Regions from separate parts of the Homo sapiens genome. Here region 1 is linked to region 2. The links come from fine-mapping of genetic effects on gene expression. A gene starts in region 2. The other region holds a variant in brackets. All regions are shown on one strand. Distances are from middle to middle. Region 1 has its middle 17 kb from the start of GIHCG. Region 2 holds the start of ATP23 (ATP23 metallopeptidase and ATP synthase assembly factor homolog).

Region 1 (5,381 bases), 23 kb before region 2:
GTAGGCTATGGAAAAACAGGCATTCTCATAGATTGCTGGTACTAAATGCAAAATGACATAATCCCCATAGTTTGGCAACATCTATGAAAACTACATATAAGTTTACCCTTTGACCCAGTGATCTTACTTCTTTTTGTTGTTGTTGCTTTTTGAGATGGAGTCTTACTCTGTTGCCCAGGCTGGAGTGCAGTGGTGCGATCTCAGCTCACTGCAACCTCCGCCTCCTGAGTTCAAGCCATTCTCCTGCCTCAGCCTCCTGAGTAGCTGGGATTACAGTCGTGTGCCACCATGCCTGGTTAATTTTTGTATTTTTAGTAGGACCGAGTTTCATCATGTTGTCCAGGCTGGTCTCGAACTCCTTACCTCAAGTGATCTGCTTGCCTCAGCCTCCCAAAGTGCTGGAAATTCAGGCATGAGCCACTATGCTCAGCCTCAATGATCTCACTTCTAAGAATTTAACCTGAAGAAACATCTTCAACAATATAAAATGGCACGTGTAAGATTTTATTTGCAGTATTATTTGTAATTGCAAAATGGAAATAACCTAAATGTGTATACACGAGAATACAGAGTGAATAAATTATATTATATTACATACACATAATAGCATATTAGGCAGCTTTTAAGGAGTGATTTTCAGGCTTTGCTGCAAGTGAAAAAAGCAAAGAGCAAAAGAGAATAATAGTATGCCACTACCATAGATAAGAAATAGGGGGACACAATACACATATATCTACTTCCTTTTAAGAAAAAGACATATTAGAAGGACAAAACAGAAAGGACTGAAATTTGTTACTTGCAGGGGGAGAGTGGGAACAGAATGGAAGTAATACGGAGAGAGAATGACACATTTCCAATCCAGTGTATTATTTTGACTTTTGGAATCATGTTAATGCTTTACATGTTTATAAAATAATCAACAATTTTGGGGAAGAAGTCCTAAAATTGGATACAAATAGAAACAAAGAAACTGAACTGTACATAAAATGGAGAATCACACAGAAGGAAAAAGAAACCCAACTTACTCAAGTAACATTTGGACAAAGTATCTTGACTATATATCCTGAGTTTAAAAACAAAAGAGCTGTGAGAAATTTTGAGCTCTACTTGACAGCTTTATTGTTGGTGGTGGCACAGGTGTAGCAGTTCTGAAATTATTTTTTGTATCTTATAGTACTGAGAAAATAATTACATTAATAATTGTTGGAAGCCAGAGTTCTTGCTTAGAGGAGGGAGATTCCAATACAGAATGGGGAAAGGTAAGGAAGAACCTTGTGGTGGTGCTGGATTGGCATGGACTCATGCTTTTTTTTCTCTCTCTCTTTTTAAAACAAACAAAACAAAACAAAACAACATCCTAGCTATGTTTGCTGAAAGAGCAAGTTTCAATGAAGAGATTTGGTTTCCAAATCTTGTTTTCAAAAAATCATTCTCTGCTATAAGGAACCAGAGCTTCTTGAAGATGGGACTGTTTTCATGGCTAGAGGAGGGAAAATGCAACATGGGCCTGAAAAACTTGCTAGGCCAGAAAGTAAAGAAGTGCTAAAAAAGCATGAAATTATGTCAAAATGACACAGAAGCCAGTTGATGGGCTTTCCCTGGCTAAACCTGGGATAATTTGAGCATCAAAATAAGTGGTGACATTAATGGATTACATCCCACTGAATAAAATAGAATCCGTGAATTCATACTGACACTAAAAAACAAGCAAGCAAGCAAGCAAATGCAGATAGGGAAGGGAGAAGGAGGGCTTTTTAGAGCAGGGTGTCAACTAATGTAGAAGTAATGATGAGTTAGAAAGTCACCATTTATGCAATTACTGTGGAGTACTGTTAAGTATGCAACAGCAACGAAAGGGGCCCCAGGTGGGGAAGAACAGTGAAAAATTGTTCTGAGAGATGGCTAATCAAACAACCCAAGGGCACAACGACCTTGTGGCACAAACACCTGTTCCGCAAGTAGCTCCCTCCAGCATGGCCCTATAAAACTTCCTTCCAGCCCTTGCCTCTTTGCAGGAGCTTTGCACACAGAACTCCTTCTCTGCTGTGCTGCCTGTTGCATCCTTGCAAGGCAATTGTCATATCTTAATCTTCCTTTCTTTACCTACAATTGTCTTGGTAAATTCCTTTACAGCCTGCGCCACTAGCCCTAGATAGTCACACCTGCAACAATTACAGTAGTAATAATTTATTCAGGCAAGAATTGTCAGTGGATGCTGGAAGTTGGTAGAAAATTTATTGGAGAAGCGGATATTTACACAGTCCCAAAGTATATTCCTACATATTATTTATTAAATACAAGGAGAAAAAATGAGGACAAATCTAGTGGAAACCACTTTAATCAAGTGATCAAGGTCAAAAACATCCTCCCAAATAATACAAACTGACTGTAGGTGTGTCCTGATGTGATGAACATAAATTGCTTATGTAGTGTCTCTGCCAAAAATGTATAACTTTAATTGAATCACAGGGAAACAATGGGGACAAAACAATGGGCCTGTATTCTTCAAAAATGTCACTGTCATGAAAGACAAAGCAAGGCCAAAAACTGTTCCAGATTAAAAGAGACTGAAGAGACATGACAACTACATGAAATATGTGATTTTAGATTGTAAAAAAAGATTTGTATAAAGGATAATATTGGGAAAACTGGGGAAATTTGAAGATAGAATGTATATTAAATGACTTCCAAAGTTGTTTAAGCATTTATTATCATATATAACAATAATCTAGAGATAAGACATGTCCTCAGTGACCTCATTACCTGTGGGCCCAGGTGTCTCCCATCTTTCTGCTCTGCCATCCTCAGCAGGTTGGCTTTTCCACTGAGGCTGGTTTCTCATATTCTCCTAAGTACATACATGCTGATGTACTTAGGAGAGAAGGGTCATAATCTCTGCAATAAGCCTCAAAAGGTTCAGCAAAAACAAAATAAATACATATAATTCACATATGTACTAAAATATCTTCCTGAAAAGTATATAAAACAT[G/A]GTATATAAAATATACTATAACATTTTCTGTGAAGTTTTTAGGCCAGATTCCATATTTGCCCGTCAAATGGACTGTCTTTAGTTCCTTTAGTTTGTTATAGGGGTAGCTAAAAAAGTAAAATGCAGCGTAATGCATCTATAATGCCTTTCAGGCTAAAGGTGACAAGCTTCATCTCTTTTTTAAAGAAAGCAGGATATTTCCCAAGGTACTAACTTTTCCAGATTGCTCTAATCAAACTCATTTGGTTATAAGCCACTCAAGCTAGTTCAAACAAAGGGTGATAATTGTACTAAGGGGGACCAATTTTCCTGGCATTCGACAAATAGGAGACATACTGGGATTAGGCATCAGACAGACTAGAGCTGGAGAGTGGCTCTGGATTTAAGCAGAAATATGTGGGCCTCAGCTCCCTGCTTTGGCATTAGTGTGAATAATGATACCTTGCATATTTCTGTGTCCAATGGCAGGCCTAGGGATTGGTTACCCTTGAGCTAGGTATCTGATTTGATCAGTTGTGATGCTCTTGCTAAAAGTAACAAAAAGCCCAATCCAAAGTTATTTAAGCATTTATTATCATATATAACAACAATCTAGAGATAGAGCATGTCTTCAGTGACCTCATTACCTGGGGGCCCAGGTGTCTCCCATCTTTCTGCTCTGCCATCCTCAGCAGGTTGGCTTTTCCACTGAGGCTGGTTTCTTTCATGATTCCAAGTTGGCTGTTATAGCTTCAGGTATTACAGGGGTTGACAACACTGGGAGACTGAAAATGAACTGTCCTTCTCTTGTGTCCCATTAAAAAAAAAATTTCTCAAAACAAACAAAAATGGGATACATGTGCAGAACGTTCAAGTGTATTACATAGGTATGCATACATGTGCCATGGTGGTTTGCTGCACCTATTGACCCATTTTCTAAGTTCCCTCCCCTCACCCCTTACCCCATAACAGGTCCTGGTGTGTGTTGTTCCCCTCTCTGTGTCCATGTGTTCTCAATGTTCAACTCCCACTTATGAGTGAGAACATACGGTGTTTGGTTTTCTGTTCCTATGTGTTCCATTTTTAGGGCAGGGAAAAATGTCTCCAGAAGGCGTCCAACAAACTTCCCCTTACATCTCATTGGCAGATTAAGCAAGGCAAATGACAGTCATCGTGGTTGACTTAGACTAATCAAGGTTCATCCTCTTAGGCTGAGAAGGTGCTCAGCCTGTCATAATACATTCGGCTAAGATAACAAAGGAATTTTTCTATTAGGATGGAAAAGGAAAATGGGAGAATGGTATTGAATGCAGTGTTGCACTCCCTGGCCTGATCAGTCATGGTGATGATAAGTGGTTATTTGGTCTAGTAAATTATCTTTTTTTTTTTTTTTTGAGACAGGGTCCGCTCTGTTGCCCAGGCTGGGGTGCAGTGGCATGATCTCAGCTCACTGTAACCTCTGCTTCCTGGGCTCAAGCGATTCTTCAGCCTCAGCCTCCTGAGTATTTGAGACTACAGTCATGAACCACCATGCCCGGCTGTTTTTATAGTATTTGTAGAGATGGGGTTTTGCCATGTTGCCCAGGCTAGTCTTGAACTCCTGAGCAGCTCAAAGCGATTCGTTTGTCAAAGTGCTGGGATTACAGGTCTGAGCTGCTACATCTGGCTAAATTATCCTTTAGGGAAAGAAAATCTGTGCACAAAACAAATTCTCTTAGAAGATGTGGGCAGGCAGGCAATTATTGGCATCTCAAATATACTAATATTTGCCACATCATAAAACATAATGAAGGTAATTATCTGATGGGCATATTATTTTATCTATTTCAAAATACAAAATAGCTTCTTGTTAAATTATACAAATATACAATCCTTTTGAAAAACTTCAGCTATAAACAAAGAAAATAATCGCAGTTGTAAAGAGAAGTGAGAAGTATATTTACTACTATGGTATGATCTTTAGGTCTAGATTTAAGTTAAAAAAACCCAAGGAGGTCAAGATAATGAGAAGACAAGCCACATACTGGAAGAAAATATTTGCAAAAGACATACCTGAAAATGGACTGTTATCCAAAGTAAACAAAGAACTCTTAAAATTCAATAATAAGAAAACAATTTGATTAAAAATTTTTTTTGAACAGACACTTGAACCTGAACAGACACCTCACCAAAGAAGACATACAGATGGCAGATAAGCAGGTATAAAGATGCTCAACATCATATGTCATCAGGGAATTGCTAATTAAAACAATGAGATATCACTACACACTACACCAGCAGGATAGAGAGAGCAAGGAAGTGCCACACTTACTAGAATGGCCAAAATCTAAAACATTGAAAATACCAAATATGGGTGAGGATGTGGAGCAAGAAAAACTCTCATTTATTGCTGGTGGGAATGCAAAATGGTGTA
Region 2 (5,381 bases):
GGTAGGATTGCTTAAGCCCAAGAATTCAAGGCTGTGGTGAGCTATGATTACGCCACTGCACTCCAGCCTGGGTGACAGAGCAAGAACCTGTCTCTGAAAAAGAAAAAAAAAAGAAGAAATTGTTATGACAAAAAGACAAAGACATAGAATCAACCATTAACCTAAGTGTCCACCAACAGATGGTTAAAGAAAATGTGGTTATGCATACACCACGGAATACTATGCAGCCATAAAAATAATGAAATCATGTCTTTTGCAGCAACATGGATGGAGCTGGGGGCCATTATCCTAAGTGAAATAACTCAGAAGCAGAAAATCAAACACCCCATGTTCTCACTTATAAGTGGAAGCTAAAGACTGAGTGCACGTGGACATACAGAGGGGAATAATAGACACTGGGGACTCCAAAAGTGGGGAGAGTGGGAGGGGAAGGGTGAGGGTTGAAAAATTAACTATTGGGTACAATGTTCACTGTTTGGGTGATGGGTACACTAGAAGCCCAGACCTCACCACTACACAATATATCTGTATAATAAACCTACACATAAACCACCTGAATCTATGTATTAAAAAAGAAAGCATGAAAAAAATCCAAATAGTATTTCAAATGTATATAGGCTATGGTCCATTTCTAGGCATATCTAGCCTGCCTTCAGTATTCCAAACTAATCACACTGAATTGTAATGGCTTAGTTTTCCATATGTGTGTTTTAGTTCAATAACTGGATTGAAAGCTAGTTGTGTGGTCCTAGATAAATTATTGAATTTTGCTGAGCCCACTTTATCTGCAAATTAGAGATAATACTTACTTTGCAGGGTTGTAGTGAGGATTGGAAATAATGTATCCAAGGTGAATTTAATTAAAAAGTAGTTACTTTTTTTTTGACTTCTGGCTTTAATAGTCTATGTACATAGGAGTTGTTTGTATTTTTATAATATTCCAGATGAATGACTATCCTAGCATCCCACTCAATTTAGATATTGAGCATCTATGACACATAAAGCACTGTTCATAACCCTAAAGGCCTGCTGAGCCTATATTTTTCAGATATGTTTCTTACATAAACCACATGCTGCTCTTCATCTTTAGCAATTTTCTTAGTCATGTGTTTCCTCAGTCTCTTACACCTTGCCTGGCCCATCATAGTAGGTGCTGAATAAATGTGTGAGCTGAGTGGAATAATTTAGTAGGAAAAGAGAAACACACAAATTGGATAAAACCTGGCAGGCTACGATGAAAATGATTAACAGGTACAAAGTGCTTTGTACATTGGGAGATCAGGAGACATTAATTTTGATTAAGGTATCTGGGAATGCCCTGTGGAGTAGGCAGATTTGACCTGGGCCCCAATCATAGGGGCTGAGGCAAGGAGCTTAAAGATGGAAATGACAGTATGAGTTAAGGCTGAGAGGTAGAAGTAAACAGGGTGCGCTTTGTTATCAGGGAGTTATTGGTGGGGGGTGGGGCAGAAGAGTAGGGTAAACGAATGGGTACAGGTGGGAAGAAAAAATGTAGTTGGTTCCTACATTTTGAGGATTTTGATGTGACTAGTCATTCTTTATAGTTTTAAAACGTTTCTGAAAAACACTGCTTTCAATATGGCCAGAGGCATCTTTGGGCAGAGTGGATCTGAGGGATGGCAGGGGTCGGGAAAGTGGCGGGCCAGAAATGACAACTGGCTTGCCCCGGAAGAAGGCAGGGAGTGGGAGGATGGCCGAGACCTTCGGCGGCACAAGAGCAGTTAGTGGCCAATATTCGCCCCGAGGTGAGGAAGGAGTGTCTGCGAGGAGGCGGGACACCCTTAGAGCTCAGCAGGCAGCAGGAAGCTGCAGAACAACGCTTATAAAGACATGTCACCCACACTGGGAGGGCAGCAGCGAAATCCGCGGCAGCCGGGTTGTTACAGCCTTTGAGGGAAGTCGCAAGACCCAGCTCCGCCCAACAGCATCGGGCCCCGCGCCCCGCCCCATGCCCTCGCCCCGCCCCTCATCCCTCGCCCCGCCCCTCGCCTCTCGCCCCGCCCCTCGCCTCTCGCCCCGCCTCCCGCGCTCCCCGTCAGGTTCAAAGCCCCCTCCCGCCTAACGTCTTCAGCCCAGCCAGGCTGCCCTTCTTCCCTGCGGAGGGAGGGCCTGGGCGGTCGCGTTGGCGGGAGGGAGGTTACCTTTCCCAGTCTCGCTCTGGCCGCCTGAGCCAGGAGGAAGCAGCGGCGAGGTCTGCGGGAGGCATGGCGGGAGCTCCGGACGAGCGCCGGCGGGGCCCCGCGGCAGGGGAGCAGCTGCAGCAGCAACACGTCTCTTGCCAGGTCTTCCCCGAGCGTCTGGCCCAGGGGAATCCCCAGCAAGGGTTCTTCTCCAGCTTCTTCACCAGCAACCAGAAGTGCCAGCTTAGGCTCCTGAAGACGCTGGAGACAAGTAGGAGCCATGACCTGGAGGCTGTGGTTCCACAGAATGGGTCTGAGACCGGGTGGGCGAGGAAGGGCCTGGGCAACACCTGGCCAGGGGCTTCAGGTTCAGCACAGAGTCTAGACAGACTGGGCATCATGGGGGCTGGGTTGGGAGCCTGAGGCTCAGTTTCCCCACTAGAGGTGGCGCTGAGACCCTTTTCGTCGCTGTTTTTGGCTTGTGGAATGAATTTGTCTGCCCTTTTTTGTCACTCACTGTTGTGACAGATCCTCCGATTTCTTACATAAGTTATGCAGCCACACTGTGACTTCAGGGTAAGGGTGAGGCCAAGTTTTAAAGTGCCAGCCAGGTTAATTAAGGCACACAAAGGCTGTAAAAATGTAAAAATGTAATTAAGGCATACCAAGGCTGTAAAAATATAAAAGCAGTTTTGCAAACCTACCGTTCCTTGGAAGTGGTTCATGCATGAATGGGCTTCAGAGCGTAGAAATCCCTGAAATGGTCTGTGAAATCGTGTGTATGTGTGTGTGTGTGCCCCTAAGTGCATTTTTTTTTTTTTTTTGAGACGGAGTCTCGCTCTGTCGCCCAGGCTGGGGTGCAGTGGCGCGATCTTTGCTCACTGCAAGCTCCGCCTACTGGGTTCACGCCGTTCTCCTGCCTCAGCCTCCCGAGTAGCTGGGACTACAGGCGCTCGCCACCACACCCTGCTAATTTTTTGTATTTTTAGTAGAGACGGGTTTTCACCGTGTTAGCCAGGATGGTCTTGATCTCCTGACCTCGTGATCTGCCTGCCTCGGCCTCCCAAAGTGCTGGGATTACAGGCGTGAGTCACTGCGCCCGGCCCAAAGTGTATTTTTTTTTGGTCGGGGGAGAGAGTTAATAGCTTCATCATATTCTCAAAGAGGCCAACGACCCCACAAAGGTTAAGAACTGCTGTGGGTTAAACAGGGACACAACTGCCCATTGACAAATTTCTCTCCCGTCCCAGAGACATTGCACTAGAGAAGATTTCTTAATTCCTTTACATTGACATAGACTTCTTAAGTTTACTTTCAGATACATTCAGAAAATTAGTCTTAAACATACTTGTCCCAAAGCAAGGTTACTATTTCATAGCTAGTCAGTCACAGTTCAAAAGTCAACCACCGAAAGATTTTCCAACCTTCTTGGGATTACCTGCTTGTAGAGACTCAGGGAGGTAGGAGGAGGAAGGGGAGTTGAGGGTAAAAGGGGAGAGAATGATGATATTGTATTTACTGTACAAATATGTATTGAGTGCCTCCCAGGTTCTGGTGGGGGAAGTAGAAAGATGAGTTAGCACCCTGCCTTGAAGGTGCTTCAAAGTGGAATAGAGTGGAAAGAGTATGGGTTGCAGAGTTAGATGTGGGTTCAAATGCGGATCCCTTTCCTCAGGTGTGGAAGGTGACTTAACTTCTCTGATCCTCACTATCCTTATTGTAAAAAAAGAGAAGGGGAAAATACCTTTTTTAGGGTTGTTGTGAAGAATAGATTTTATGGGGCTGGGTACGGTGGCTCATGCCTGTAATCTCAGCACTTTGGGGAGCCAAGGCAGGGGGATTGCTTGAGCTCAGATGTTTAAGACCAGCCTGGGTAATATAGGGAGACCCTGTCTCTACAAAAAATAAAAAAAATTAGCTGGATGTGGTGGCTCATGCCTGCAGTCCCAACTATTTAGGAGGCTGAGGCAGGAGATTTGCTTGAACCCAGGAGGCTGAGGCTGCAGTGAGCTGTTATTGCATCACTGCACTCCAGCCTGGGCAACAGAGCGAGACCCTGTCTAAAAAAAAAAAAAGTACTGATTTTATGAATGTAAAGTACCAGCATATCAGGAGCTGAGCTGAATAAATGGTAGCTGTTTTTACAGTGGAAGGGCCACACAGTGGAGGAAGAGTGGAAATAGATAGGATGTGAGGAAGGTGGGGTGCTGAACATGAGCCCCAGTAGGAATCAATGGACCTTGATCTTCCAAGGGCAGGGTGGCTGGGAGGGTCTTTTGGTGGTATTAAAGTGTCAACCTGCAGCTTTAAAATGCTATCCCTGGGTGGGGCGTGGTGGTGGAAACCAGACCTCATGGGAGTCTCTTTTTTTTTTTTTTTTTTCACCAAAGCAATTTTATTCTAAATATTGCTGCAGGTCCTTTTTGAAGTACTAAACCATGGTTTTTTTTTTTTTTAAGTACAAGGACTACAGACTTTTGAAACTGTTTTAATTTTGTAAAATTCTCCTAGTTGCATGAATAATAATGTGCTTAATATGGTGCCTGCTACCTGGTATTCACTCAATAATACGTATTGTTAACAATAATTATTCTACTGTGAACACTCTTGCAAGGGGCAGGTTGGTAAAGCAGTAACCTATACCTGACTTTCTCATCTCACATTTCTTTTTCTCACCTATTTTTGCCTTCAACATTTTTTTTAAACCTTAGTTTCTTTTTCACTTTTTTTGGGTTACATCATATAATTGGCTGTGCATTTATATTCTCAGACAAGATGCCTATGTGAAAAGTTAATATCAGAGGCATTTGGGCTCCTTGTACTTTCCTGTAGTAGTCACGGGCCCATAGAGTCTTAGATGTGGAAGGGCCCTCAGGAATCGTCTAGGCCTCCCCGTCCCCTTACAGGGAAACCTCTGTGCTATTGCTGGCCAGATACTCTACAGACCTCTCCTGGAATACAGTTACCTGTTCCTTGAGGCTCTTTCAATCTACTGTCTATTGTTTCACCAGCTTTAATTGTTGGAGAAAAATCCTTTCTCATACTGAGCTGAAATCTGCCACATGTAACTTCCATACTTTGGTCCTTGTTCTGCCCTTTGAAGAAATATTAACTGAATCTAGTCCCACATGGCACCCCTTCAATACTTGAAAGTAGTGTGGTCCTAGTTAAGTCTTCTGTCTCCTTTCCAACCCCCCAAATCCTTTCTTGCTTCTTACTGGAAATAGTCTGTAGTACCCT

What was found. PIP is the estimated chance that this variant, and not a neighbour inherited with it, causes the effect. A credible set is the group of variants that fine-mapping cannot tell apart.
Region 1: its variant is the best candidate, but not a certain one, in a credible set for the expression of ATP23 in activated naive CD4 T cells (Schmiedel 2018, PIP 0.86).

Annotation. Positions count from the first base shown.
Region 1 is chr12:57,916,372-57,921,752 of GRCh38, forward strand. No RefSeq gene overlaps it. Among named protein-coding and RNA genes, the nearest start is that of GIHCG, 17 kb to the right of the region's middle. The variant G/A (reference allele first, on the strand shown) is at 2,990.
Region 2 is chr12:57,939,477-57,944,857 of GRCh38, forward strand. ATP23 (ATP23 metallopeptidase and ATP synthase assembly factor homolog) reads left to right here and starts at 2,091. Exons shown (of 6, transcript NM_033276.4): 1 at 2,091-2,412. The coding sequence starts at 2,226. RefSeq lists enhancers at 1,960-2,769, 3,226-3,395.